2 separate regions of the Homo sapiens genome follow, and region 1 is linked to region 2. Evidence: fine-mapped expression QTL. A gene starts in region 2. The other region holds a variant in brackets. All regions are shown on one strand. Distances are between the middles of the regions. Region 1 holds the start of LOC124905149 (a long non-coding RNA gene). Region 2 holds the start of MAPK8IP2 (mitogen-activated protein kinase 8 interacting protein 2).

The links. PIP is the estimated chance that this variant, and not a neighbour inherited with it, causes the effect. A credible set is the group of variants that fine-mapping cannot tell apart.
Region 1: its variant is the best candidate, but not a certain one, in a credible set for the expression of MAPK8IP2 in subcutaneous fat (GTEx, PIP 0.71).

The regions. Positions count from the first base shown.
Region 1 is chr22:50,629,678-50,644,624 of GRCh38, forward strand. LOC124905149 (a long non-coding RNA gene) reads left to right here and starts at 1,817. Exons shown (of 2, transcript XR_007068161.1): 1 at 1,817-5,021; 2 at 5,866-6,329. RefSeq lists enhancers at 5,585-6,101, 6,102-6,616, 11,826-12,389, 12,390-12,954, 13,676-14,177 and 1 more. The variant G/T (reference allele first, on the strand shown) is at 5,469.
Region 2 is chr22:50,593,618-50,608,564 of GRCh38, forward strand. MAPK8IP2 (mitogen-activated protein kinase 8 interacting protein 2) reads left to right here and starts at 7,176. Exons shown (of 12, transcript NM_012324.6): 1 at 7,176-7,266; 2 at 8,172-8,277; 3 at 9,606-9,881; 4 at 10,009-10,102; 5 at 10,224-11,447; 6 at 11,751-11,826; 7 at 11,945-12,117; 8 at 12,208-12,317; 9 at 13,041-13,148; 10 at 13,304-13,374. The coding sequence starts at 7,202. It overlaps CHKB-DT (CHKB divergent transcript), which reads left to right. Exons shown (of 4, transcript NR_110536.1): 4 at 1,574-1,664. RefSeq lists a silencer at 6,586-6,765 and an enhancer at 7,555-8,055.

The DNA of each region.
Region 1 (14,947 bases), 36 kb after region 2:
TAACCTGGCTTTTGTCAGTTGATTTTCTGTGAACTCAGAATGCAGAAAAGTTTTTCTCTAGGCTCCTACAGTTTTGGTGCAGTCGGTAGGATAACTAAAGTCACTCTCCTGGGAGCCTCCGTCAGGGGAACCCAGGAGCCGACAAGCTGGCAGAAAGAAGGGTAAGAAGGTCTTAGCAGCCAGGCTCCCGGCCTCTCTGGAATCTTGTCAAGCCGACGGTAAAAATGTCTGTTTACCTTGTTTTCCTCTTCAAAGTTTTAATGAGAGAAATGTATTTATGTGATTAGTTTTGTATTCATATTGTTTGATTGCTTTTTTTCCCCAGAAATAGTCGTCTTTCATTCTTGTCTTTCTGTGTTTTTCTGTCATAAAGAGGGTAGAACACAGGCCTAAAACCCCTGTAAACCCCGTCTTGGGGCCGTCCTGCAGGCTAGTCAGTTTTGCAGCTCTGATCGGATGCGTCTAGTTAGACAGACTTTGCTGTGGGTCCCTGAACTGAAAACTGGATGAGATTCTCCTCTCTTTTGATGTCCTTGAAAGCTTGAGTTGTGAGCGAGTGGGAATGATGCAGGCCAGGCAGACCCCAGAGTGGAGCTTAGCCAGTGAGGGTTTTGGCTTTGCCCAGGAAAGAATTCAAAGACAAGCCAGAGGTAGAAGAAAACAGCTTTATTGAACAGGTGGCGTTAGAGCTCTGTGACTGCTCCTGCAGAGCAGGGCCACCCCGTAGGCTGAGAGTAGCAGCTCAGGGCAGTTTTGCAGTCACATTTATACGCACTTTTGATTGCATGTAGATTAAAGGATGGTTTATGCAGAAGTTTCTAGGGAAGGAGTAGTCATCATTGGGTCATTGCCATGGAAAGGGGTGGCAACTCCTGGGTGTTGCCATGGCAATGGTAAACTGACATGGCACAGTGGCGGGCATATCTGACTGAAAGCTGCTATTGCCCCAACCCTGTTTTAGCCAATCCTCAACTGGGTCAACTAAGTCCCACCTCCTACCTCAGGAGCACTCTCTTGGCCTCTGCCAATCCGAGGTAGTGACTCGCAGGTCACATTTTGTGGTCAGTCTGAAAATGGTTGGGAACCCAAGACATTTAATATTTTAAGCAGCACCGTTTTTGTTCTGAATGTGTCAAGCTTTTAGTTTGTCTTAAGAAGTCCCTGCCAGGCGAGCTGTCAGAGCCCCGGCACTGGGAGTGGTGGTCAACTTGCGGGTTGGTAAAAAGAGTTTACCGACAATAGGTTTGAAAAAGGAAAGTTTGGCCGGGCATAGTGGCTCATGCTTGTACTCTCAGCACTTTGGAAGTCCAAGGTGGGTGGATCACCTGAGGTCAGGAGTTTGAGACCAGCCTGGCCAACATGGAGAAACCCTGTCTCTACTGAAAGTATAAAACTTAGCCAGGTGTGGTGGTGCGTGGCTGTAATCCCAGCTACTTGGAAGGCTGAGGCAGGAGAATTGCTTGAACCTGGGAGGCGGAGGTTGCAGTGAGCTGAGACAGAGCAAGACTGTCTCAAAAAAAAAAAGAAAAAAGAAAGTTTGCCGGGCACGGTGGCTCACGCCTGTAATCCCAGCACTTTGGGATGCTGAGGCAGGTGGATCACCTGAGGGCAGGAGTTCAAGACCAGCCTGGCCAACATGATGAAACCCCATCTCTACTAAAAATACAAAAAATTAGCTGGGCATGGTGTCGGGAGCCTGTATTCCCAGCTACTTGGGAGGCTGAGGCAGGAGAATCGCTTGAACCTGGGAGATGGAGGTTGTGGTGAGCTGAGATCATACCATTGCACTCCAGCCTGGGCAACAAGAGTGAAACTCCATCTCAAAAAAAAAAAAAAGAAAAAAAAAGAAAAGAAAGAAAGTTTATTAGAATGCTGCAGAAGAGTGCAATGAGGTGCCTCAGCAAGAGGACTGAGTACGCCGGGTGGATTTCTCCTTAAGGGCATTTATAGGCCTTAAAGTGGAGGCTTAACAGTAATTTGGACCATATTAGCCACGTAAGTCATGATAAATGATTACATTTATAGTAATTTTGGTGCCTTAATGTCAGCGACGGTTGTACAGTGAGTTTCGTCATGGTATTCTGGAGACACATAGAAATTATAGTTACTTACACGTTTTTTGGGGGAAGAAATCTGGAACCAGATGCCTGCTTTAGATAATAGGGAGGTTTAGTTACTTTTGATTTTCCCCAGATAAGGAGTTTTGCCTCGGAGGGCCTGTTTGATGTTTGATGGTCGCCAGGTGGTTTTTGCTCTCCTCAGGCCCATCCATAAGGGGCTTTTGTCATCCCAATGTTTGTTGCCTGGTCAGTCCTCAGAAAGCCCAATCCCAACAGGCCTACCCTGTGTTACAGGTTAATGGGTCTGTGACTGGCAGCCCCTGACAGATTGTGTGTTACTGGAGGCACTGTATGTACAAACACGTTCCTTAACTGTCTCTGGGAACAAGAGTCTTTTGCTGTCTTTGCCTATTCCTGGGAGTGAATTTTGGGGGCATCATTGGAACCTCCTCTTCTATGCCCTCTCTAAACCTGGAAAATAATCTTTTGGGCTTTCCATGAAGGGGCTTCTTGGATTGAGTTGCTATTGGAATAAATACATCATTGGAAATTCTGATTGTCAATAGCCAAAAGATGAATCCTTTACATTAGAAAGATCCCTAAATTAAAAAAAAAAAAAGATTTTAGAGGTCTCTCATTCTAAACAATTGCCTTATTTGTATTTGTGGGGAGATTAAAGGAAAGACACATAATAATGTTGTGGCTAGCCTTAGAAATCCTCTTCACAAAATTAAAGAGCAAAAATCTGACCTGTAACAAGTTAAAATCCTTTGTGCGCGCAAACCATTGCTTTGGATCCCTGCAGGATTCACAATGAAGACTGCTGCATCTTGGAAACTACTTAAAATTCTGTACTTTCACTACCATGGCCTGGGTTCAATTCCCAATAGAGGAACCAGTCCCTTTTGGTTTGATATTTGTGTGACTTTTGAATTCTTTCTTTTGTTTTTTTTTTGGAGACGGAGTCTTGCTCTGTCGCCCAGGCTGGAGTGCAGTGGCATGATCTTGGCTCACTGCACCCTCTGCCTCCTGGGTTTAAGCAATTCTCCTGCCTCAGCCTCTGGAGTAGCTGGGATTACAGGTGTGAGCCACCACGCCCGGCTGATTTTTTTGTGTGTGTGTATTTTTAGTAGAGATGGGGTTTCACCATGTTGGCCAGGCTGGTCTCGAACTCCTGACCTCGTGATCCTCCCGCCTTGGCCTCCCAGAGTGCTGGGATTACAGGTGTGAGCCACCACGCCCAGCTAATTTTCTTTTTTTTTCTTTTTTTTTTTTGTATTTTTAGTAGACATGGGGTTTCACCGTGTTGGCCAGGCTGGTCTCGAACTCCTGACCTTGTGATCCGGCTGCCTCGGCCTCCCAAAGTGCTGGGATTACCAGCGTGAGCCACGCACCCAGCCAACTTTTGACTTTGTGCGGAACTCATTTGTTGTTGACCCTTTCCCCCTCCACTGGCAGCTTTTGATTTCCTTTCTTTGAGCTCTTTGGGGTGGCTCTGGATGTCATCAGGACTGCTTTGCGCCTCTTTGGAGATGGCTTATGTGTCCTTGGTTAAGTCCATAGCTTTAGTTAAGGCTTATTGGTTTTGGTGAGTCACTTGGGAGGTACCTTTGGTTTTAAAAAAAAAGGTCTCAAAGCCATGGCTATCAGCTGTTGGTCTCAGCTAAAATCTGATAATAAGATATTTGAAAGGATTTTAAAAAAGAGCTCTGTGGTCAGAAGTTGGCTTAATTAAAAACAGGTGAGCTGATCTTCAAGCCATGTATCTACAGCCTTTTCTGCTTTTGGACCCTGTTTCTGGGAATTTTTTTTTCAGGTGACTGAAACCCCTTTAAATTGTGTGTTTGGTCCTTCTGTTTGGTTCCTTTGTTGGTATAATTTTGATGAGAAAAATGTAAAATTGTATTGGCCTTTTAGAACCTTAACATTTTTCCAAATTGGCTCCTCTAAGGATTGCAGTCCCATTTACTTCTACCCCTCCGTGCTCCTCCATCCCCTTTGCCATCTTTGGTACCTAATGAAGGGATCTACAAGGGACTTCTGATGACTTAGAGACCCCTTGGGGAACGCAAAGAAAGGTGCCACGCGCCCCGCTTTTGTCTTCCTTATGGGGCCTGAGGAGTCGTGGGTAGCTTCCTCTCGGGTCTAAAGCTTGGCTGTCTTTGGCACTGTGTCACTGGATCTCTTTGGCTTTGGGGGTACCAGGGATTACGTTGCACTGTGAGACAGTGCATGACCTGAGTGTGTGTGATGGCCGGCAGGTCACTGGCGAGGGCTGCCTCACAGTTTTGGAGGTGGCTGAAAGCAGTTGTAGTGAATGGTTGTTCCTGCAGTGGCTGCTTGTTTCTCTGCATGTTTAGATGAGAAAGGCACAATCTGAACACTTGGAGACTATGGAAGCACTTGGCGTCAAAGGCTGAGACTCCGTGGGCTGATTGCTGTGGGTCTCCCACCAGCCTCAGGGGAATGTCTTCATAGTGAGGTACACTGTGGAAACACTGTATGGCTTTGTCTCATATATATCTCTTTTTAGAGGGAACTCAGCATTCAGTGTAAATGTGGGATCCTTGATTTTAAAAGATCTAGATGCTCTGCCTTCCAGCTGCACCTGTTTTTCACATATTTAAATATTAGGTCCTCCAAACTGCAAATGCTTTTTTGGCCATGTTCATTAATGAGCTCTGTCCTGAGCCCAGTGGTCTAGTTCAAAAATGGAGAATAAATTAATAGCCACATATTTAAATAACATTGTTGTCCTTATAAAATCCTGTGGTGAATTTCTATGACTTTTTGTTACCTCAGCATCCATTTAAAATCTTCCTTTAACATACTAAATCAAAGCTTAAACTTTCTCCCTGTGGAATTGCTTGAACCAAGGAGGCAGAGGTTGCAGTGAGTCAAGATCGTGCCGTTGCACTCCAACCTGGGCGACAGAGCAAGACTCCGTCTTGAAAAAATTCAGTAAATAAAAATAATTTTTTTTTCTCTGTGCTTCAAGATGTAAATTTGTTGCCTTGTTTTCTCTAAAACTTGGTAAGGGCTTTGGCCGTGTGAGACAGATAAATTTTACCTTGTTCCATTTACAGAGGCACAATTTTAAGTATCCTTTTAAACTAGTGATTTTTACCCGATTCGTGGCTAAAATCTTAAAACTAAAGCTATAAAATCTTGATTTGTGTCTGTATTTTTATGTGTACATGCCTGTTTGTATATTATGTACATAGTAGCAAATTGACGTATAAATAAATAAGTGCTCATGAATGATGTAACTAAACCCAGATGCTTTTCTAGTTCATGTGACTAGTAATCTTTGGCAAATAAACTTAGTTTTAAAATTGTTGCTGCTGGGTGCAGTGGCTCACACCTGTAATCCCAGCACTTTGGGAGGCTGAGGCGGGCAAATCACGA[G/T]GTCAAGAGATCGAGACCATCCTGGCCAACATGGTGAAACCCCGTCTCTACTAAAAATACAAAAATTAGCCAGGCGTGGTGGCATGCGCCTGTAGTCCTAGCTACTCAGGAGGCTGAGGCAGGAGAATCACTTGAACCTGGGAGGTAGAGGTTGCAGTGAGCCGAGACTGCACTACTGCACTCTAGCCTGGGTGACAGAGTGAGACTCCATCTCAAAAAAAAAAATGATGCTAAAATTAGAATATCTTCAAAGTCGTCAGTCTTAAATATAATTGAGACATCTTTGCTTGGGCCCATTGGTCGGACAGGTTCAGACAGTCTCTGTTAGATGCTTTAAGGTCATAAAATTTGCTTCTGTCATATTTCTGATACTTGCTTAATTTGTCTGTGAACTTAGGTCTTTGGCTTTGAGCCTCTACATTCTGGGGTCAAGACAAGTGGACATGATGTGGCCTGGAGACATCTGTGTGTCCGCAGTACCTAAGCCCCATCCTCCCTGGCCCAGCTGTACCCCCCGGTCATGCTGTTTGTCTGCAGTGCCCGAGCCCCGTCCTCCCTAGCCCAGCTGTGCCCCCCGGCCATACTGTGTGTCTGCAGTGCCTGAGCCCCGTCCTCCCTAGCCCAGCTGTGCGCCCCAGCCATGCTGTGTGTCTGCAGTGCCCGAGCATTGTCCTCTCTTGCCCAGCTGTGCCCCCCGGTCATGCTGTGTGTCTGCAGTGCCCGAGCATTGTCCTCCCTGGCCCAGCTGTGCCCCCCGGTCATGCTGGGAGGGGTTGAGTCCTCCAGGCATTGTCTTTGTAGTAGCCCATTCTCACACTGCTAATAAAGACATACCTGAGACTGGGTGATTTGTAAAGGAAAGAGGTTTAATTGACTCACAGTTCAGCGTGGCTGGGAAGCCTCAGGAAACTTACAATCATGGCGGAAGAGGAAGCAAACACGTTCTTCACATGAGGTCAGGAAGGAGGTGTGCAGAGCGAAGAGTGGGGAAGCACCTCATGAAACCATGAGACCTCGTGAGAACTCACTAGCACAAAAACAGCGTGGGGGAACCGCCCCCTTCATCTAATCACCTCCCACTGGGTCCCTCCCACAACACCTGTGGATTTTGGGAACTACAGTTCAAGATGAGATTTGGGTGGGGACACAGCCAAACCATATCAGTCTTTAAAGCTCTGTCCTTTGTCCTGGGCTTTGCATCTTTAATAACAATTAAAATTGCTTACTTCCCATGTTTTTCACTGAAAATTAGGCTTCCTAAGAGTTAACATTGTAATTAATATATGTATTTAAAACTACTAGATATAAGAGAAACACTTCTGTATGCAAAGTTTATAAGAAAGTAGGATGTGTTTTTGGTAAGGAAGGTTATAAAGAAGGCATGAGAATGAGGTTTTTGTTAAAGGAAAAGTAATTTTGTCTAGTTTTGATGTTTTTAAAGGTTGTTTTAAATTAAAGGAATAAAAAAATGATAGATAAAACTGAATATATATAGAAAGTTTGAGAAACAAAGAATGGAACAAATTTTAAGAGGTTATTAAAGGTTTATGGAAATCTTATGTGGTCAAAGCTGATTGAGATTGAATGGATCTGTTTTTAAGTTTTTATTAAAATTAGCTTTAGTATTAATAATATGCTAATGTAAAGGTAGAATTTAGTTTTCATTTTTGAGTAAGATTTTCATGTAGTATTAATAAGAGACAGTAAAAGATTTTTGTTTACCTTTTGAGTAAACTACAAGAAAAGGAGGAGTAGGCCCGGTACGGTGGTTCACACCTGTAATCCCAGCACTTTGGGAGGCCGAGGTGGGTGGATCACCTGAGGTCAGGCGTTTGAGACTAGCCTGGCCAAGATGGTGAAACCCCATCTCTACTAAAAATACAAAAATTAGCCAGGCGTGGTGGCGCCTGCCTGTAGTCCCAGCTACTCAGGAGGCCGAGGCAGGAGAATCGCTTGAACCCGGGAGGCGGAGGTTGCAGTGAGCTGAGATTGTGCCACTGCACTCCAGCCTGGGCAACAAGAGTGAGACTCTGTCTCACAAAAAAAAAGGAGGAGTAGAGAGTTTGCCTCATGCTGTCTTTATTTATTTATTTATTATTTTGGAGACAGGATCTTGCTGTGCCACCCAGGCTCATCTCGAACTCCTGAGCTCAAGCAGCCCTCCTGCCTTGGTCTCCCAAAGTGCAGGGATTACAGGTATGAGCCACCACGCCTGGCTCAAAATTATAATTATTATGTTAAATTGTTGTATGTCACACAAAAAAACAAATCTCCTTGTGAATTGCATCTGTAACCATCATTAGTCTAAGTCATCTGTCATCCACAGTCAATTACTGTTTTACTTTGATTCTTTTTAAAAAGCAGCTTATAATTAGCTACAGTTCAAGACTTGCTTCTTCCTCAAGGAAACTCATGTAAAGTACCCAGACAAGTACTTTTTTTTTTTTTTTTTTTTTTTGGTTTTTGGTTTTTTTTTTTTGAGACCGATCTCGCTCTGTCGCCCAGGCTGGAGTGTAGTGGCGCGGTCTTGGCTCACTGCAAGCTCCGTCTCCCGGGTTCATGCCATTCTCCTGCCTTAGCCTCCTGAGTAGCTGGTACTACAGGCGCCCGCCACCACACGTGGCTGATTTTCTTTGTATTTTTAGTAGAGATGGGGTTTCACTGTGTTAGCCAGGATAGTCTTGATCTCCTGAGCCCACGATCCGCCCGCCTCGGCCTCCCAAAGTGCTGGGATTACAGGCGTGAGCCACCATGCCCGGCCTCAAGATGCTTTTAAAAGTCTAATCTGAGATTCCTTATGAAAAAGTTCTGGCAAAGCCAACTTTAAAAGAGGTTGAATGGCCAGTCACTATTATTACTGTACTTTATGCAAATAATCAGGCCAATTATAATAAGACTAAAACTTATTTTGTAAATCAGTTGTTCTTACTCTGATTTGTCTTTTGTGGAAAAGGGAGACTGGAGAGAGAAAAAATATGTTTTAGAAGAAAACTATAGTATACCTGTTATTAGAGTCCAGACTGACTGTTGACACCTGTTATTAGAGTCCGGACTGACTGTTGACACCTGTCACGAGAGTCCGGACTGACTGTTGACACCTGTCACAAGAGTCCGGACTGACTGTTGACACCTGTCATTAGAGTCCGGACTGACTGTTGACACCTGCCGTGAGGAGAGTCCGGACTGACTGTTGACACCTGTTATTAGAGTCCGGACTGACTGTTGACACCTGTTATTAGAGTCCGGACTGACTGTTGACACCTGTTATTAGAGTCCGGACTGACTGTTGACACCTGTTACGAGAGTCCGGACTGACTTGTTTTTGAGTTGTTATCATTTGCCTATAGTTTGAACTGAATCCTGCATTCTTTCCTAGCTCCAAGTCTCTAAACTAATGCTTTCCAGTTTTTCTCCCATTTTTCTGATTTAAAATCACTGGAAATTAAAATGGCTTTTCTTGAAGCCCTGCAACTGAAGCTAAATTACTTATAATCTTCAGGAGAAATCATCACAGCGACTTATGTATAAATAGCCTTTGTGCCTGTTGATATATGGACTATTCAGAAAGTTCACTTGAACACCCAATTAGAACTACAATCCAGAAAAATCTGTCAAATTGCCATTGCAATCTGAAGATGCTCCAGATGCCTCAGATTGAGGAGAGCTAGAAAAGCTAGTCTATGGATGACACCAGACATTCACCGTTTTTTTTCTTCTGTTTCCATAGAATTGTATCTTGTTAAAGATCTGTTTGTGTGAATTATATACGAGGTCCCAGCCCATCTGCAATGCCACTTCTTGGAATAGGATACAGCTGTTTAACTGAGCTGATCTAGTCTCAGGACTAAGAGACGGATTCAAGAAAATATGGCATGATACATATCTATTTTTCAGAGACAGGGTCTCACTCACTCACCCACAAAGTGGTGTGATCACAGCTCTCTGCAGACTTGACTTCCCAGGCTCAGGTCATCCTGCTGCATCAGCCTCCCAGGTAGCTGGGACCACAGACACAAACTACCATGCCTGGCTAATTTTTTATTTTTTGTAGCAATAGAGTCTCCCTGTGATGCCCGGGCTGGTCTGAACACCTGGGCTCAAGTGCTCCTCCTGCCTCAGCTTCCCAAAGTGCTGAGATTTACAGCCATGAGCCACTGTGCCCTGCCAGGATGACATTTAAATTTGTCTTTTTCTGCTTATCCCAATTTCTTTTTGCCCGCCTCTGCCTGTCTCTTATCTAACAACCTCTAACTCAAATCTCTTCAAAGCTATCAACTTTCTTTTTATATGGGCAACTTTCTGAAAGTCTCAAAGTGGGGACTGAAGGAAACCAAAATATTTCGCCCCAAAATGTATTTCCATGGCTGGGCATGGTGACTCACGCCTGTAATCCCAGCACTTCGTGAGGCCGAGGTGGGCAGATCACCTGAGGTCAGGAGTTTGAGACCAGGCTGGCCAACATGGCGAGACCCCGTCTCTACTAAAAATACAAAAATTAGCCAGGCATGGTGGTGCATGCCTGTAATCCCAGGGAGGCTGAAGCAGGAGAATCACTTGAACCCAGTAGGTGGAGGTTGCAGTGAGCTGAGATTGCACCACTGCACTCCAGCCTGGGTGACGGAGTGAGACTCTGCCTCAAAACAAACAAACAACAACAACAAAAATATTTCCTTGACACGGTTCAAGACAGTTACTCAGAAGGACTGGAAATAGAAGAATAGCTGAAAAGCTGTCTTTTGTGGGGGAGATTTGCATCTGTGGAGAGAATCTACACTGATGCGGCCAGGCCTCCTCTGAGGCCCTCCTTGCCTGATCTGGGAAGAGTAACAGTCTGACGCCTTTAAAGGCCTGAAGGGAACATTCACCATCTGTTCTCTCTCAGGGCTGCTACCTGTGAGGTTTCATCTGTAGAACAAGGCCACCTTTGCTAGCCAGGCCTCCTCTGCTCTCCCTCCTGTAACCGGTCTTGCCACTGGTCACCTGATTTTCCACCATAAACTGTGGCCATACTTTGAGCCCATGTTCTTTCTGTAACCTCAAGATGGTATATAAGCTTCCGAACCCCATTGGGAGGTTGGGGTCATCACTCTGGTTCTCCCTGTGTGCATGAATAAATCTGTATGCCTTTTCTCTTACTTTGTCAGTTGATTTTCCGTGAATCTCCTGAGGGCAGAGGGCAAGTTTTCCCTTGGCCTCTATAGTCTCCAGTTTGTTTAACAGTCAAATGGAAATGACAGACGCGTACTGAACGTTGACCTAAAAGAAAGAAGCTGAAGCAACATTAACATGAGCGGAGGGTTTATTTGGGCCAAGCTTGAGGATTGCAACCTGGGAGCAGAGATTCTATTTGCCCTGAATATACACTCTGATTGGCAACAGTTACAGTAGTTTTTCGAAGGAAAAGAGGTGGCTGGGCGCGGTGGCTCACGCTTGTAATCCCAGCACTTTGGGAGGCCAAGGCGGGTGGATCACTTGAGGTCAGGAGTTCGAGACCAGCTGGGCCAACATGGCGAAACCCTGTCTCTACTAAAAATACAAAAATTAGCCAGGTGTGGTGGCGTGTACCTGTAATCTCAGCTACTTGGGAGGTTGAGGCAGGAGAATTGCTTGAACCTGGGAAGTGGAGGTTGCAGTGAGCCGAGATTGCGCCATTGCACTCCAGCCTGGGTGCCAGAGTGAGACTCCGTCTCAAAAACAAAACAGAAAAAACAAAAACAGATAACATTGGCTATACATTGTTCTTTCTTTTTGAGACAGAGTCTCGCTGTGTTGCCCAGCCTGGAGTGCTCACTGTGCCCTCCGCCTCCCGGGCTCAAGTGATTTCCTGTGCCTCAGCCTCCTGAGTAGCTGGGATTTACCGGTGTGAGCCATCATACCCGGCCTACATTGTTCGTTGTGTCACAAATTCCAAGAACATGAAGATAATGGTGAGGCAGCTGGTCTGGAACAAAGCGTCCTGAAACAATTGTCCCCAGCCATTTTTGCAGAAGTGTGGGATTACTGAGGCCCCACACTCATCCCTCTTGGCCGTACACCCCGCCTAGTTCCGACTCTGCTCTGAGCTACTTCTTTTTCTCATCAGTGTAAGAGAGAGCCCCAGAGGGGGCTTCGGTGAGGATTTTATTCTGTGTGGCTGAGGGCCCCAAGGTTGCTGTAGTAATTGGGCCCTGCCAGGGTATCCCTCTCCATAGCCCCTGCCCTGAACAGTTTCCACTGCAGGTGTCCCCAGGACAGCTCCCTCAGGGTGGCCCCTCCTAGGGTGGCTCCCCAGGGCAGCTCCTTGACCTTGCGTTTCTCCACAAGCTCAGGTTGCCCCTCGGGGAGGAGCAGGACCTGGTCTCCTGATGGGAAGCGCTTTCCCTGGTCACTGACCCTGCAGCCAGTGGGAAGGTGGACAGGGCTCTGGAAGAGCCTCTGGGGACCAGGGTGAGGGTTCAGGACTCGACTTCCACTGAAGCCCAGCTGTGTGTGGGGAGCTGGCATTTTCCTGAGGAAACATGAAAGCTCCAAGATAGAGGCCATGTGGGAGCAAAGTTTGAAGGGACTCCCAGAGATGGGGTGGGAAGGGGCTGGGCTTGAGGCTGCTGCTGACCTTGTGGAGAGCAGGAGGTGCCAGTCTCTGCCAGCGAGCCCCTTGATGTTACATTCCAGTGTGGTGTCTGTGCCTGTGTGTGGCGGGGCTGGGGGCAGGGGTGCGCTGCTGGTGCTTCCATCTGGAGCCAGAACAGAAAGCTGCTCGGTGGCCCAGAAATCTTTGAACCTGTAATTGGAGCTATCGCAGCTGGTTGGCGCTGTGAATTGGAGTTTAAAAGGAGACAATCAAAGGCACTTTATTCTCTTTCAACTGGAAGCTGGGAACTACCCCAGGACCGGCCCCTTCTTCCCGAGAAGAGCCTGCTTAGGGTTGTAGTGTTACGCAAATGGTGGCCCCTTCCCCCTGGGCTCTGGAGGCCGCTCAGGGGTTGCCCACGTGACAGCTGCCTCGGCCCAGCCCTGACCTCCCGGCCTGGAGGAGGGGATGTGTGTGCTGCCAGCTATGTTTGTTCAAAGCCAAGCTCTGCAGGCCATCCTGCCTTTTGGAGATGTGAGTTCTTTTTCTGCATTGACAGAGCCCCAATTGGAGGCAGCCTGCTGGGGTTCGGGAAGTGGCTCTGGACGCCTGGGGCATTGCTAATTTGGGACTAACACCCACAGTCAGGAGAGGGCCTTGAAATGAGGGGCATGGGTCTTGTCTTTTTGCACCTTGGACAAGGGATGGAAGAAGCCTCTGCATGGGGAGGGTGGGGAGTTGAGCTGCTTCAGCGGGAACACGTGGCCTGAGTGGAGGGATTCTGCAGCAGTTCATGAGACCTGCTGACATGGGGATCCACCTTAGGCCCCCTGGTGGCCTTCATCTTCCCCACCCCTGTGGGCCTGCTCCATCCTTGTCCCATCAACCACCTTGAGGCCCTCTGGTTGGTCCCAACTCTGAAAGGGCTCTGCTGGTCCCAGCTGGGCAGATACATGACCTGGCCAAGGGGGTGGCAGGTACTGACTGGGAGGTTCTTGTGGAACCCACTGGCAGGGAGAGGAAGGCAGGAGGTTCCCAGAAAGAGGGGCAGCCCTTTTTTTTTTTTTTTTTGAGACGGAGTCTCGCTGCGTCGTCCAGGCTGGCTGGAGTGCAGTGGCGTGATCTCGGCTCAATGCAAGCTCCGCCTCCCGGGTTCACGCCATTCTCCTGCCTCAGCCTCCTGAGTAGCTGGGACTACGGGAGCCCGCTACCACGCCTCGCTAATTTTTTAATATTTTTTTAGTAGAGATGGGGTTTCACCGTGTTAGCCGGGGTGGTCTCAATCTCCTGACCTTGTGATCCGCCCACCTCGGCCTCCCAAAGTGCTGGGATTACAGGCGTGAGCCACTGCGCCCGGCTTGGGGGCACAGTCTTGAGCAGATGAGGACGGAATCCACTGCCCACAAGAACCGTGGCAGGTGTGAGGTAGCTGCTGTGTGGCAATGAAAGCTTCTCTGCTTGGGCAGACGGCAGCTCCTGAACCTTCTCCGGAGCCCATCTGTGCACTTCCTTGTAAAATCCAGTTTTAGTAAGGACCTGATCACCCTTTATGTAACCACCCAGTGAGTTCACTTTGCCCGCTGCCTGCACAGAGCCGATTTATCAAGACAGGGGAATTGCAATAGAGAAAGAGTAATTCACGCAGAGCCGGCTGTATGGGAGACCAGAGTTTTATTATTACTCAAATCAGTCTCCCCGAGCATTCGGGGAGCAGAGTTTTTGAGGGTAATTTGGTGAGTGGGGGAAGGCCAGTGAGTTGAGAATGCTGATTGGTTGGGTTGGAGACAAAATCATGGGGAGCCGAAGCTGTCCTCTTGTGCCGAGTCAGCTGCTGGGTTGAGGCCACAGGATCAGATGAGCCAGTTTATGGATCTGGGTGGTGCCAACTGATGCATCAAGCGCAGGGTCTGCAAATACCTCAAGCGCTGATCTTAGGAGCAGTTTAGGGAGGGTCAGAATCTGCACTGATCTTAGGAGCAGTTTAGGGAGGATCAGAATCTGCACTGATCTTAGGAGCAGTGTAGGGAGGGTCAGAATCTGCACTGATCTTACTTAGGAGCAGTTTAGGGAGGATCAGAATCTGCACTGATCTTAGGAGCAGTGTAGGGAGGATCAGAATCTGCACTGATCTTAGGAGCAGTTTAGGGAGGGTCAGAATCTGCACTGATCTTAGGAGCAGTTTAGGGAGGGTCAGAATCTGCACTGATCTTAGGAGCAGTGTAGGGAGGGTCAGAATCTGCACTGATCTTAGGAGCAGTTTAGGGAGGGTCAGAATCTGCGCTGTTCTTACTTAGGAGCAGTTTAGGGAGGATCAGAATCTGCGCTGTTCTTACTTAGGAGCAGTTTAGGGAGGATCAGAATCTGCGCTGATCTTACTTAGGAGCAGTTTAGGGAGGATCAGAATCTGCGCTGATCTTACTTAGGAGCAGTTTAGGGAGGATCAGAATCTGCACTGATCTTACTTAGGAGCAGTTTAGGGAGGATCAGAATGTGCACTGATCTTACTTAGGAGCAGTTTAGGGAGGATCAGAATCTGCACTGATCTTACTTAGGAGCAGTTTAGGGAGGATCAGAATCTGCACTGTTCTTACTTAGGAGCAGTTTAGGGAAGATCAGAATCTTGCAGCCTCCAGCAGCATGACTCCTAAACCATAATTTGTAATCTTGTGGCTAATTTGTTAGTCCTATAAAGGCAGACTAGTCCGCAGGGAAGAAAGAGGTTTGTTTGGGGAAAGGGCTGTTCATCTTTGTTTTAAACTGTCAACTATAAACCAAGCTCCTCCCAAAGTTAGTTCAACCTGCGCCCATGGAGGAACAAGCATGGCTTAAAGGCTAGAAGCAGGATGGAGCTGGTTAGATGTTAGATGTTAGATCTCCTTCACTGCTTCAGTCGCAGTTTTGCAAAGGCGGTTGCAATCATATCTGGTCA
Region 2 (14,947 bases):
GCTGGGAGTTCCAAGATGACAAGTTTGTGGGTGTAAGAGGCCTGATAGCCGGCCGGGCGCGGTGGCTCACTCCTGTAATCCCAGCACTTTGGGAGGCCGAGGTGGGCGGATCACAAGGTCAGGAGATCGAGACCATCCTGGCTAACACGGTGAAACCCCATCTCTACTAAAAAATACAAAAAATTAGCCAGGCGCGGTGGCGGGCGCCTGTAGTCCCAGCTACTTGGAAGGACGAGGCAGGAGAATGGTGTGAACCCGGGAGGCGGAGCTTGCAGTGAGCCGAGATCGCGCCACTGCACTCCGGTCTGGGCAACAGAGCGAGACTCCGTCCCCCCGCCAAAAAAGGCTTGGTAAATCTCTGTTCAGGGTCTCCAGCAACCTATCAGGGAGTCTCCCTGTCAGGCAGAGCCCTGTCATCACCAACTTTAGTGCATCTTTGGGAGGAACTGGGGAAATCTGGGAAGCGCTCACCAGACATTCTGCAGCTTGATAGCTCCTGGCATGCTTTGCTGGGCCTGTTCCCTTTGTGCTCATCGCAGTAAATGGAAAACTCTCCAAAATTTGTATGTCAGAGAGAGATTTGTCGAGGCTGCAGTGCTGTCCTCCTTGGGGCTATGACTCTGCTGCAGTGCAAAGACTTTCATGAAAGTGTATAATCCTGTTGTTTTTTCAGTTATTATAAAAGTGTCTTTGGGCATGTACGTTCTATGAAGGAGTCTAGTGAGACATTCAGATTTCAGAGATTTAAAAAATTTCCTGGCAAGGCGTGGTGGCTCATGCTTGTAATCTCAGCACTCTGGGAGGCCGAGGCAGGCGGATCACTTGAGTTCAGGAGTTCGAGACCAGCCTGGCCAACATGGTGAGACCCCATCTCTACTAAAATACAAAAATGAGTTGGGTGTGGTGGTACACACCTGTAGTCCCAGCTACTTGGAAGGCTGAAGCAGGGAGAATGGCTTAAGCCTGGGAGGTGGTTGTTGCAGTGAACTATGATTGCACCACTGCACTCCAGCCTGGACGACAGAGCAAAATCGTGTCTCAAAAAAAAAAAAAAAATTCCTGATAGTAGCAATCTATTTAAAAACTTCAACTGATGCATGTTATAATCATCTTCTGCACTGATAGAAATCTGTTTTCTGAAAGGTATAATTATGTGTGAGATTTCTTTCTTAAACCAGAAGGATTTTTTTTTTTTTTTGAGACAGAGTCTTGCTCTGTCGCCCAGGCTGGAGTGCAGTGGCGTGATCTCGGCTCACTGCAAGCTCCGCCTCCCAGATTCATGCCATTCTCCTGCCTCAGCCTCCCGAGTAGCTGGGACTACAGGCGCCTGCCGCCACGCCTGGCTAATTTTTTGTATTTTTAGTAGAGATGGGGTTTCACCGTGTTAGCCATTGTGCTTGATCTCCTGACCTTGTGATCCGCCTGCCTCGGCCTCCCAAAGTGCTGGGATTACAGGGGTGAGCCACCGTGCCCGGCCTACTGTCACTTTCATTAAGGCATAACAATGTTGTAAATGCCATGATTTTGGATGTCCTGTACCATCAGGTGAGAATTACCATTTTCTTTAACATAGGTTATGCTTGTTTGCTGATGGAAATGATCCAGAAGAGAAGGACAAGTTGACGATTGAGAGGGTTAATGTCAGGTAAGAAACTTGAGTGGACATTGAGGAAAGAGCGAGGTTCAGTGGACTGGAGGTTTGTGGTGGTTTCATGACACGTGGACTGGAGATTTGCAGTGGTTTTATGACACATGGACTGGAGGTTTGTGGTGGTTTCATGACACATGGACTGCAGATTTGCAGTGGTTTTATGACACAGCTCCTAAGTTCTTTGACACTCTTCCCATGGAGGGGTAGGGTCTGTGACCCCCCTCTTGAAGCTGGGTAGGCTTGCAACTGCTTTGGCCAATAGTCACAGCAGCAGTGATGCTGTAGGACTTACAAGGTTAGACCAGAAAAGGGCATGCCCTCCAAGGATCCTTACTCTGATGGGAACCAGCCATCATGTAGAAACTCTACCCTTGGCTGGGTGCGGTGGCTCACGCCTGTAGTCCTAGCATTTTGGGAGGCCGAGGTGGGCGGATCACCTGAGGTCAGGAGTTCCAGACCAGCCTGGCCAACATGGCGAAGACCCGCCTCTACTAAAAATACAAAAAAAAAATGAGCTGGGCGTGCTGGCAGGCACCTATAATCCCAGCTACTCGGGAGGCTGAGGTAGGAGAATCACTTGAACCCAGGAGGTGGAGGTTGCAGTGAGCCAAGATCACACCACTGCACTCCAACCTGGGTGACAGAGCGAGACTCTTGTCTCCAAAAAAAAAAAGAAAAGAAAAGAAACTACCCTGAGACCACGATGCAGGAGAGCCCAGTGGATATGCTGGTGACAGCCGCAGCAGAGCCCCCAGCTCACACTCAGCATCCACTGCCAACCTTCTGAATGAACCATCTCAGACCTCGAGCCAGGCTTACCTCCAACTGCAACCAAACCTCAAAAGAGACCCAGGCAAGAACTTCCCATTGGAGTCCTTCCTGAATTTCCACCCTCAAAACAAACAATTGTAAATAACAACTTAATTGTTTTAATCCACTAAATTTGAGGATAATTTGTTACACAGTAATAGTAATTGAAGCACATTTCTTATGGAGTTAAAAAAAAAAAAAAAGGCTTGACACAGTGGCTCACGCCTGTAATCCCAGCACTTTGGGAGGCTGAGGTGAGTGGATTGCTTGAGCTCAGGAGTTTGAGACCAGGCTGAGCAACATGATGAAACCCTGTCTCTACAAAAAATAAAAACATTAGCCAGGTGTGGTGGCACACATCTATAGTCCAACTACTCTGAGGAATGAAGTGGGAGAATTGCTTGAACCTAGGAGGCAGAGGTTACAGTGAGCTGAGATTGCACCACTACATTCCTGCCTGGGTGACAGAGCAAGACCCTGTCTCAAAAAAAAAAAAAAGTGGGTATTGTAGTAATGCAGCAAGAGACCAAGAAAAGTAGGAGGTAGTGATCAGAGACCTGGCTGCATAAAAATGAAGATTCGGGAAATGGTGGCGTTAGGACTTCACCATGGTGAAGGTAGAACTCTTAATTTTCATCTTTATTAAATGTGTCTGTTTGCAGTTTTAACCATTGGCATATTTATTTTGTGTTTGTGATTTCTGTGAAATATGAGTACAATAAATACTGATAGTTTGCATTTGTTTTCTAATCTCTCAGAAAGTTGTCAGAAAATGTTCTCTGACTTTTTAGAATTGCTGTGGTCAGGACTGTGGAAGCTGTTGCGATTCCAACTCTCCCTTCTAAGTCCAATCAATTTTGTGCTTTGTAATGTCTATGCCATTCGTGCACCATAGAGGGAAGAAAGCGTTAAAATGGTCGCGTCACAACATCTTGATTTGTCATTGAAGGAGAAGGAGTCTGGAAGGACGCTGACAACGGGTGGTGGTCAGGAAGGAAAACCCAGTGCCTGTGGCCCAGAGGCTGGAGGAGGAACTTCAAGGAGGGATGTTCAGCTCCCTGTGGACCCCCATTTGTTCATCCATACAATGATGCTCTGAGGAGCACACAAGGAAGGTGCAAATTTGATAAAATGTGCATGATGTAAGGAGCATAAACCCCCTCAGGAAAGAGTTGCTGCCTTTTCACTAATGTATCCCTGAGCTGCACAGAGCAGCCCTGGGGGACTGGGAGGACATGTCCCCGGTGTGAGGAGCAGGGGAAAGGTGAGCCTTAAATGATCACCAACAAACAACAGGGCCTGTGTCTGGGGCTTACACCACGACATGTGGTCCTCGCAGCACCATTGCTCAGAGGAAGAAACCAAGATCTCGAGGAACTGAGTAATTTGCCCACGTTCAACAAGTTGGTGCAAAATGAAGAGTGGCTCCCGTATTTCAGACTTTAAGGCCGACGATCTTCCATCTGTGCTCTGGGGGCAAGATGGGAGGTCCACAGATAAAATTGCGGGCGGTATCCCCCATCTCATGGTCTTTACGCTCATGGGACCTGGGAGTGACCATCTTTTAAGAGGGAGGGAAGGAAGGGGAGAGGCTTGAGGAAGGTTTTGGGGATTAGGATCTAAGATGAAATTTGAGACTATAAGACTTCAGATTGGATGCTGTGGCTCATGCCTGTCATCTCAGCACTCTGGGAGGCCATCACCTGGGCTTGGGCCCAGGAGTTTAAGACCAACCTGGGTAACATAGTGAGACCCTGTTTTTACAAAAACAAACAAAATGCCAGGTATGGTAGTGTGCACCTGTGGTCCTAGCTACTCAGAAGGCTGAGGCAGGGGGATTCCTTGAGCCCAGGAGTTTGAGGCTACAGTGAGCTAGGGACACACCACTGCACTCCAGCCTGGGTGACAGAGTGAGACCCTGTCTCAAAAAAAAAAAAAAAAAAAAAGATTTTAAGCTTGCTGCAATTCCAGATGAAGGTAGATCCTGGAGGCACTTTGTGGGAGAGGTCACTACACTTGAGTATTAAAGACTGTTGACAGATCAGAAATCAAGGAACTGACTGACCAGGGTATTGGATGGGTCATTTATGTGGATGTCCAGATGAACCAGTTTGGTGAAAAGACTCAGGATCAAAAGCCAATCTGGAAAGTTGAGGTCAAACTCTCTGTGAAATCTGGGAAGGGATCTGGATTTTTTGGGAAAGGCAGGGAGTGGTTAATAGGCCCAGACTCCCTCAGAAATGGGGAATGTTCTTAGTGCTTCTAAAAGGGAAAAGACTGTTATGGCAAAGACCTGATGCCCCAGACTGGGTTAGAGACCATAAGCTCTCTCATTCATTCATTCACATGTCTGCTAAGCACCTACTGTTTGCCAGGCACCATGCTTGGAGCCTAGGGCTTCACAGAGAGATGACAGCCTCTCTTCTCTCCAGCCAACCCAAGTCAAGAAGGCAAGCATAAACTAGTAAATGGCTTTTTTTTTTTTTTTGAGATGGGATCTCACTCTGCCCCCCAGGTTGGATGCAGTGGTGTGATCTCAGCTCACTGCAACCTTTGCCTCCTGGGCTCGGCCAATTTTTTTTATTTTTGGTAGAGACATGTTTCCAGGCTGGTTTCAAACTCTTGAGCTCAAGTGACGCACCCACCTTGGCCTCCCAAAGTACTGGGATTACAGGTGTAAGTCACTGTGCCCAGCCAAGTAAATGCCATTCTTAGAAAAATACTGTAATTGGCATAAAATATAAATTGTGATGGGACACCAAAGAGTGCAGGTTCAATCAGGCCCTGGCCACAGGCCTCTCTCTGAGCTGGAATGGTGATACCCCCCTTCCCGACTTGCATGAGCTCCTTCTGCCATGTCGTTTCTGGTGTTTGTCACTCAAGTGCCTTGTCCTTTCCTAAGGAATAATTTTCCAGGCCAGGGGCGGTGGCTCACGCCTGTAATCCCAGCACTTTGGGAGGCCAAGGAGGGCAGATCACCTGAGGTCAGGAGTTTGGGACCAGCCTGGCCAACATGGCAAAAACCCATCTCTACTAAAAACACAAAAATTAGCCGGACATGGTGGTGATTGCCTGTAATCCCAGCTACTCGGGAGGCTGAGGCACGAGAATCGGTTGAACCCGGGAGGTGGAGGTTACAGTGAGCTGAGATCGTGCCACTACACTCCAGCCTGGGCAACAGAGCAAGTTCTGTCTCAAAAAAAAAAAAAAAAAAAAAAAAAAAAAAAAAAAAAAGAATTTTCCGCAGAACTAAGACATAAAGAAATCTTAGGGCACATAACTTTCATCAAGGGGGAAAAGGGATTGCGCTTTTGTTGAAATGCCAGCCTCCTTCTTTAGCCAATATTTAGCCAGGTGCTGTGGTTCACACCTGTAATCCCAGCACTTTGGGAGGCTGAGGCCAGAGGATAGCTGAGCCCAGGAGTTTGAGACCAACCTGGGCAATACAGAGAGAGCCGGTCTCTCTCTCTCTCTTTTTTTTTTTTTGAGACGGAGTCTTGCTCTTGCCAGGCTGGAGTGCAGTGGCGCAATCTCGTCTCACTGCAACCTCCGCTTCCCGGGTTCAAATGATTCTCCTGGCTCAGCCTCCCAAGTCGCCGGGACTACAGGCGCCCGCCACCACGCCCGGCTAATTTTTTTGTATTTTTAGTAAAGACGGGGTTTCACCATGTTGGCCAGGATGGTCTCTGGTCTCGATCTCTTGACGTCGTGATCCACCCGCCTTGGCCTCTCAAAGTGGTGGGATTGCAGGCGTGAGCCACCGCGCCCAGCCACCGGTCTCTATTTTAGAAAGAAAAAAAGTGTCCTGCAGTCTCTCCCTAGTTCTGCGCCCTCAACCCTGATCTCCCGCCTCCTCCCACAGCCACCGTCTCGAGCTCAGCTTCAACCATGGCCCTCCCCACAGGGCTCCATCCCAAGCCAGAGCGGGTCAGTTCCCTACACAGGGCCCAGCAACACGGTGCCCAAGAAAAAGTGTTTCCAGTGGGACGCATGTCGCCTCCGTGGGTGCTAACTTCTCCCAGTGCCCGTCGGTACGTCCGTCCGGCTGTGCAGTCTCTACTGAGTGCTCAAAGTCCACTTTTAGCCCCAGCCAGCATCCTCTGAGTACCTTGTGCTCGATTCTGAATCCAGCCCTGCTCGGCGACCCTCGTGCAGACGTCCCCGTGCAGCCCCGGTCAGCACCCCGTGGGGACAGCTCCGATCAGCACCCGACGGCGGACAGCTCCTCCCGCGCCTCCCGCCTCGCCCGCCACCCCGCTCCGGGCCGCACCCGGGTTAGGGTTCCTGGGGGGATCCTGGGCGCGGCGGCGCAGCTCCCGGGGCCGCCCCGGCCTCTCGCCCAGAGGAAACAGCCCACGGCGAACCCGAGGCCCGCGGACCCCGGCGCTGCCTCCTCGGCCTCCCGCCCCGCGCGGGTCCTCCAGGGCGGGGCCCGACGCCCACCCGCCCGCCCCTTCCCTCCCGCCCCTCCCCGGGAAAAATCCTCATCGCACGCCCGGCCCTTCCCCAACCAGCGCCCGGCAGTGAAGCCGCCGCCTCTCCTCCAACCAGCGTCCCCGGCCGCGTCCCTCCCCCGCCTCCCCCGCCGCCCTCCCCGCGCCGCCGCGGAGTCCGGGCGAGGTGCGCGGGGCGGACGCCGCAGGGCGTGTCACGAGGTGAGCGGGGCGGGCCGAGCGCCGGCGCGGGGCGCGGCGAGGCTCCCGCACCCCCCGCCGCAGTCGCGGGCCTCTCCCGGAGAAGATGGCGGATCGCGCGGAGATGTTTTCTCTCTCCACCTTCCACTCGCTGTCGCCGCCGGGCTGCAGGTACCCCCCTCGGCGCCCGGGCCGGGCGGACCCTCCGCTCCCTGCGCACCCCCCCGACCCCGACCCGGCCCGGACCCCCGTCCCCGCCGCCCCAGCCCCGCCGCCGGCGCGGACCCGGCCCCGGCCCCCTGCGGTCCCTGAGCCTCGGCTCGGGCGCCCCACCCCCACCCCGCTCCCACTCCCTCCATCTTCACCGCGCGTCCCCAGCCTCAGTGACCCCCGGGCCCCGCCGGGATTCTGAGCCGCGCCCGGCCTGGACGGCTGACCTGTCAAGGGTGGAGGCCCTGGGCCGACCCTCTGCGGGGGAGGATGCGGGCGGGATGCGGGCACACCCTCCCGGCGCGGCGTGTCCCGGTGGCCTTGGCCTCTTTCAGTGGACGCCAGACCTGGCCGATAGGGCCCGGCCGGGAGAGAGTGGAAATCAAGCCCGGAGCCCTGCGGGAAGGGACTGGGGTTGGGAGGACGCTGGGCCTCTGGGTTTAGGCCTCACTCCGCCGGAGAGGGGGAGACAAACAGGCCAGACTCTCTTCCCAGAGCAGGAGCGACCCCTCCCCATCTGCCGCTGCCGCGTTGCAGCTCCCCCTCCCCTGCTCTGCAAGACCCTGACCCCAGGGGCCTGGAGCTGCGAGTGGAGGGAGGAGAGGCTGCTGGCTCTCCAGGGAGGCGGGGTGGGAGGGGTGGGGGCAGGGTTGGCTCCTCCGGGCAGGCCTGGCTCAGATGGGGGAGGGGATCCACAGGCGAGCAGAGCTTGGGGGTCAAGATGATGGCAGGATGTGTTCCGAGAGCTGGGGGCTGTGGAAACCACTGGGTGTAGGAGCTGACGCCTCCCTCTGCCCCTCCTCAGGGCCAGTTGCCAGGCAGGGAGTCCAGGGTTGGTGGCTCTCTGACCCTGGTCTCCTTTCCAGGCCTCCCCAGGACATAAGCCTGGAAGAATTTGACGACGAAGATCTGTCTGAGATCACTGATGACTGTGGCCTGGGCCTCAGCTACGACTCAGACCACTGTGAGAAGGTGGGAGAAGAGTTGGGGACACAGATCCAGCTCAAGGGAGGGCCTCATTAGGTTCTTCTTAGCGTTCACTTGGGGTTTTAGGGTGGGTGTGAGCTCAGCCTTGAACCGGGGACTCCTCTGATGGCTCCTCCCCACTTAACCCTTGAGGTTTCCTTGGTATCAACTCTCTCTTATTCCAACACATTGCAGGCCTCCACGCAGGGCCTTCCCCAGCATTCTCCCCGACCCCATCGGTGGCCAGCCCGGGGCAGGGAGGTGCTCCTTTGCTTTGGGTGCCCTCTGTCCTCAGATCACTCCCAGAAAGATCTAATCCCTGGCAGCTGCCATCACAACCTTGTCCCCTCTGCAGCCCTGTGCCCTCGTCTGCAGCTCCCATCTGTCTGTTTCATGTCTCCCCCTGCTGAAATCTTTTCTCGTCCATCTCTTGCTTCTCCTCCTCCCTGTCTCTCCACATTTCTGCTTTCATTTATTGAAGAACATTTCTGAGCAACTGCCATGTGGCAAGTACTGGGGGCTTCTGGGTGCTGGGAGTGGAACAGGACAGCTGCTCTCTGGAGCTGCAACTTAGTAGGGGAGAAAGACTTGTAAGGGACAATGGCTGCCCACGTGTCAAGGGCTGCATTCCAACAGGGACATAAGTTCCACGAGGGGGAAGGGAACCCAATCCACACTGAAGGAATCAGGGAGAATTTCCAGAGGAAATGTCAACCATGCCCTGAGGTTAGCAGAGCCAGGCAGATGGGGTAGGTAGGAGGGAATGGAGGAGAGGAAGTGCCAGCATGGGGAATAACTGTGCCAATGGCCCTGGGGTTGGCGCAAAGTTGGTGAATCCTCAGAGTGCAGAGGCTGTCTCTCCATTTCTGCATCTGTTTGATGTTTACTGAACATCCGCTGAGCCCCAGGTCTTGTTCTTGGGGGCGGGTGCAACAGTGCATAACATGGACATGACCCTGCCCTGGTGGGGCTTGCAACAGACCAAAAACCATGTCCAGTAACTGTAAGTTGTGTTAAAACGCTGCGAAGGGAACACAGTGCTGGTGTCAAATGTGATGGGGTTCTGCAGTTAGATGAGTCTGAAAGTGGGGCTGGGGCTGCTCTGAGAATCCCTGTCATTCAGCTGTAGAGTTTAGGCCCTTCCCAAGAACTGGAGTGATCCCAATGTGTGTTAGGCAGATTTTGAAAACATCGCCCTGTAGACAGAGGGGCAGAGTGAGCTGGAAGGGGCTCTCCTTTGACTGATGCTCCCCGATTTCCCTTCTCCTAGCACCTGGGCCCCTGGGCTACTGCTGCCCTCTGGCCCAGCCCTGCTATCTCCCTCCGTCCTGCAGGACAGCCTCTCCCTGGGGCGCTCGGAGCAGCCGCACCCCATCTGCTCCTTCCAGGATGACTTCCAGGAGTTTGAGATGATCGATGACAATGAAGAGGAGGACGATGAGGACGAGGAAGAGGAGGAGGAGGAGGAGGAGGGAGATGGGGAAGGCCAGGAGGGAGGAGACCCTGGCTCAGAGGCACCTGCCCCCGGGCCCCTTATCCCCTCCCCTTCCGTGGAGGAGCCCCACAAGCACCGGCCCACCACCCTCCGTCTGACCACACTGGGGGCCCAGGTGAGTGCCCGGACCCACAGCTCCCTGGAGCTGAGCCTGGGTTCATAGCACCTGGGCTGCAGCCAGCCCTGCTCACCCCCTGGGAGCTGGCCCTCCTCAGGACCGCCGTCATGTATCTCCACCCCAGGACTCCCTAAACAACAACGGAGGCTTTGACCTGGTGCGTCCGGCCTCCTGGCAGGAGACAGCGCTATGCTCACCCGCCCCGGAGGCCCTCAGAGGTGAGGGGTGGTGGGCCCGCGGGGCGCGGGGAAGCGGGGGAGGAGGGCAGGGAGGATGGACTGGCTGCTGGAAGAGGCCTGGGTGGTGCAGAGAGGGTGACCCCACCTCCCTGCCCAGCAGAGCTCCCGGGCCCCCTCCCTGCCACGGACACCGGGCCCGGCGGGGCGCAGTCGCCAGTGCGCCCGGGTTGCGACTGCGAAGGGAACCGGCCTGCGGAACCCCCTGCGCCAGGGGGGACTTCGCCCTCCTCAGATCCCGGCATCGAGGCTGACCTGAGAAGCCGCTCGAGCGGCGGCCGCGGGGGACGTCGCAGCAGCCAGGAGCTGTCCTCGCCCGGCTCCGACTCGGAGGACGCGGGCGGCGCGCGCCTGGGGCGCATGATCTCGTCCATCTCGGAGACGGAGCTGGAGCTGAGCAGCGATGGCGGAAGCAGCAGCAGCGGCCGCTCCTCGCACCTCACCAACTCCATCGAGGAGGCCTCGTCGCCCGCCTCGGAGCCGGAGCCCCCGCGCGAACCCCCGCGCCGCCCCGCCTTCCTGCCCGTGGGCCCCGACGACACCAACAGCGAGTACGAGTCGGGGTCGGAGTCGGAGCCGGACCTCAGCGAGGACGCGGACTCGCCCTGGCTGCTCAGCAACCTGGTGAGCCGCATGATCTCCGAGGGCTCCTCGCCCATCCGCTGCCCCGGCCAGTGCCTGTCTCCTGCGCCGCGCCCGCCCGGGGAGCCCGTGTCGCCGGCCGGCGGGGCCGCCCAGGACTCCCAGGACCCCGAGGCGGCCGCGGGGCCCGGCGGCGTGGAGCTGGTGGACATGGAGACGCTGTGCGCGCCGCCGCCGCCCGCGCCCGCCGCGCCTCGACCCGGCCCCGCGCAGCCCGGGCCCTGCCTATTCCTCAGCAACCCCACGCGTGACACCATCACGCCGCTGTGGGCCGCGCCCGGCCGCGCCGCCCGCCCGGGACGAGCCTGCTCCGCCGCCTGCTCCGAGGAGGAGGACGAAGAGGACGACGAGGAAGAGGAGGATGCCGAGGACAGTGCGGGGTCCCCCGGGGGCAGGGGCACGGGCCCCTCGGCGCCGCGGGACGCGTCGCTGGTGTACGACGCGGTCAAGTACACGCTGGTGGTGGATGAGCACACGCAGCTGGAGCTGGTGAGCCTGCGGCGCTGTGCTGGGCTGGGCCACGACAGCGAAGAGGACAGCGGCGGGGAGGCCAGCGAGGAGGAGGCGGGCGCGGCGCTGCTAGGCGGCGGTCAGGTCTCGGGGGACACCTCGCCGGACAGCCCTGACCTCACTTTCTCCAAGAAGTTCCTCAATGTCTTCGTCAACAGCACATCTCGGTCCTCCAGTGAGTGAGAGGTGGGGAAAAGGGGGGTGGCCCAGAGGAAGGTGCAGACTCCCTGGCCCCAGTCCCAGGGTCCCCCACAGTGCCCAGGGCCACCTGAGGGTCTGGCTGTGGTCAGGGCTGGGTGCCCTCTCCCACCCAGGACATGGCATGAGGTGGCCTGCTCTGCCTCAGCTCCTTCCCGCTCGTAGGACACCTACACCGGACTGTGGAGGGGACTTGGCCTCTGCCCAAGGCCAGGCCTCTAAGCACTACTCTGACTCTGTCTCCCTGTCTCCCCCGCCTCTGTCCTGCCGGGTCTCCCAGGCACCGAGTCCTTTGGCCTTTTCTCCTGTCTGGTCAACGGCGAGGAGCGAGAGCAGACTCACCGGGCTGTGTTCAGGTACGGCCTCCCTCCTTGCTGGCGGTGGCCCCAGCCTCAGTCCCTGCCATCACGGAACGCCAGTGGACACGACCGTCAATCCCGCCCCCCTCCCCAGTGACCTCTCCCCCAACGGCAGGTTCATCCCGCGGCATCCAGACGAGCTGGAGCTGGATGTGGATGACCCTGTGTTGGTGGAGGCCGAGGAGGACGACTTCTGGTTCCGTGGCTTCAACATGCGCACGGGGGAGCGCGGTGTGTTTCCTGCCTTCTACGCCCATGCGGTGCCCGGCCCTGCCAAGGACCTGCTGGGTGAGGTCCCAACCCCGAGGGGAGGCTTTTCACCCCAGATCCTCCCCTGTGCCCCTGCCTGACCTGGGCCCTCTGTGCCCCGCTCCCCAGGGAGTAAGCGGAGCCCCTGCTGGGTGGAGCGCTTTGACGTGCAGTTCCTGGGCTCCGTGGAGGTGCCCTGCCACCAGGGCAACGGCATCCTGTGTGCAGCCATGCAGAAGGTCAGTGTGGAGGCCGGGCAAGTGCAGGCTGAGGGTCCGCTTGGCGGCCACACCAGCACTGCAGGCTGGCACAGGGCTTGAGGCTCCAAGGTCTGAGGTCTGATTTCCTCCAGGGAGGGTCTGGGGGATGCTGCAGGGGGAGCTCGGGGTGGGTACCCCAGGCCCTGGTTCAGAGGCCTGAGCAGGTGAGTCTAGGGCAGAGCACAGCAGCTGTCCCTCATCACCTCTGGGTCTCTGGGCCACAGATCTTCCAGGTGGCCCCGACTGCCATCAGCCCTTCCTCTTCCCATCTGGAATCAAGACCAGCCCTCACAGCCCCTTCCCTGGGAGCCCTCTACTCATCCACTCACTCAGTGGACGTTTAGTGAGCACCTGCCCAGGCACCAGTACTGAGGCTGAGGCTGGGGGGCAGTAGGGAGCAGGGCAGAGCAGCCCAGGGCGGGTGAGGTCTCTGTTCCTGGCTCCTGAGCCAAGCGCAGCAGCCTGCCTGGAGGAGCAGAAGGAAGATGAAGCAAGCTGACTGCAGAGAGGCGATTGCTCCTCCTGAGCCTGAGGAGTGGCCAAGGCCACACCCCTTATGTCTTCCAGAATTGCATCTCAGGGTCCTCAGCATGTGTGTCCTCAAACATAAGCTAAAAGGAGCAGAGGCGTAGTCCCACCAAGGGGAAAGAAAGGCCCTTGTGGGCTCCTCAAGACCCTCTTCTCCCCCAACTTCTTCTGTAGATTGCCACTGCCCGGAAACTGACCGTCCACCTGCGCCCTCCTGCCTCCTGTGACCTCGAGATCTCTCTTCGGGGGGTCAAGCTGAGTCTGAGCGGAGGAGGGCCCGAGGTGGGAGTGTGGGGGACTGGGGACCGGGGACTGGGGGATAGGGTTAGGCCACGGAGTCCGACGGGGCCAGGCTGGCAGGGGTGTCCAGTAGGTGGGAGGCAGGGGTGGCGCCAGGCCTCCTTTGACACAGGGACTTCTGCCCACCTCTGCTCTAGTTCCAGCGCTGCAGCCATTTCTTCCAGATGAAGAACATCTCCTTCTGCGGCTGCCATCCCCGCAACAGCTGGTGAGAGTCTGACCGTCCCCGAGTCCCCCAACCGCCCCCACAAACCCTGAGAGTCCAACCGCCCCCTGAGTCCCCACAGACCCTGAGGGCTGCCCGTGCCCAGCCCTGAGAGCTCCACCTGCACCCACTTAGCTCTGTGAGCTGAGCCTGCAGTGGCGCCTGCTCTGAGCTGGACTCAGGAGGCGTGGGTCAGACAGGCTTGCATCCAGTCTGGGTGGAGAGAGGCACACGGGCGAAGGATGTGAGAAGCCTGTGTGGGTGCAGAGGACGCCTGAGTGGGCCTGGGGCTCAGGATGGCCAGCCTGGAAACACAGCAGGTGACAGCGGTGGGGAAGTGGATCTTCCTGGTGGGGTCTAGCTGAGCCAAGGGTGTGGGATGCACTGGTCGGGGGCTATATAGGCTCTGGGGCCCGCGTGTAAGGGGAGCAGCTAGAAATGCCGGGGAAGACCTGGACCCTTTTGATTATGCCAAGGAGCTGTACTTAATCTTGCTGGTAATGAGGCCATAGAAGGCTCCTAATGGAAGGAGGTGACACAGGGGACCTGGGGGCTGCTGAGGTTATACAGGTGCTATGTCCTGAGACCAAGTGTGCAGATGCAAGAGGCACTGAAGAGGCAGTACAGGCAGGACCTAGGTTGACCGGCTGTAGAGGGTGACCTGGAAGAGACCAGGGTGACGTCTCCCTGGGGGATGGTTGTACTGCAGCCCACACACCGAGAGGGGATGCGGGATCAATCACAAACGGTGAGACTGAAGTGGCCGTTGGTCCCATGGGTCTGGAGTTTAGGAGGGAGACCTGGAGGGAAGATACCAGGTCAGAGCAGGTAGATCACTGAGACGAGAGGGGAATGGCCAGGCAGGGTGAGGGGAGGAGGGGAGGAGGAGGTGCTGGCATAGGAGCAGCAGGCCAAGGGGGGCTGCCAGCTTCCCTCCAGGCACAGGCCCCTGCCCTCTGTGTCCCAGCACCCTAGAGGAAGGAGATCTGGGAGGAACCAGAGAGGCAGAGCCAGCCAGAGGCTGGAAAGGACTTGCGGGGAGTTGGAGGAAGCAGGCTCACAGACAGGCAAGACACAGCAGGGCACGGTGCTGCCAGGACTGAGGCGTGGGACAGACGTCAGTGCATCTTGGGGGCCTTGTGGACTCTCCCTGTGGTCGAGAGTGAGGGTGCTGCCTGCTGGAAGGTGCGGAGCCCTTTTGTGTTGTCCCCGCCGAGTGCAGAGATGGTCTGATGGGATCCATGCGGAAACGCTGCTCAGTGGGGTGGAGAGGTGGGACAGCGGGCAGCGATGCAGACCAGACTGCGGGGCCAGCTCTGGGGTGGAGAGGTGGGACAGCGGGCAGGGGCGCAGACCAGACAGCGGGGCCAGCTCTGGGGTGGAAAGGTGGGACAGTGGGCAGGGGCGCAGACCAGACAGTGGGGCCAGCTCTGGGGTCACCAGGACAGCGAACGGGGCGCAGACCAGACAGCAGGGACAGCTCTGGGGTGGAGAGGTGGGACAGCGGGCAGGGGCGCAGACCAGACAGCGGGGCCAGCTCTGGGGTGGAGAGGTGGGACAGTGGGCAGGGGCGCAG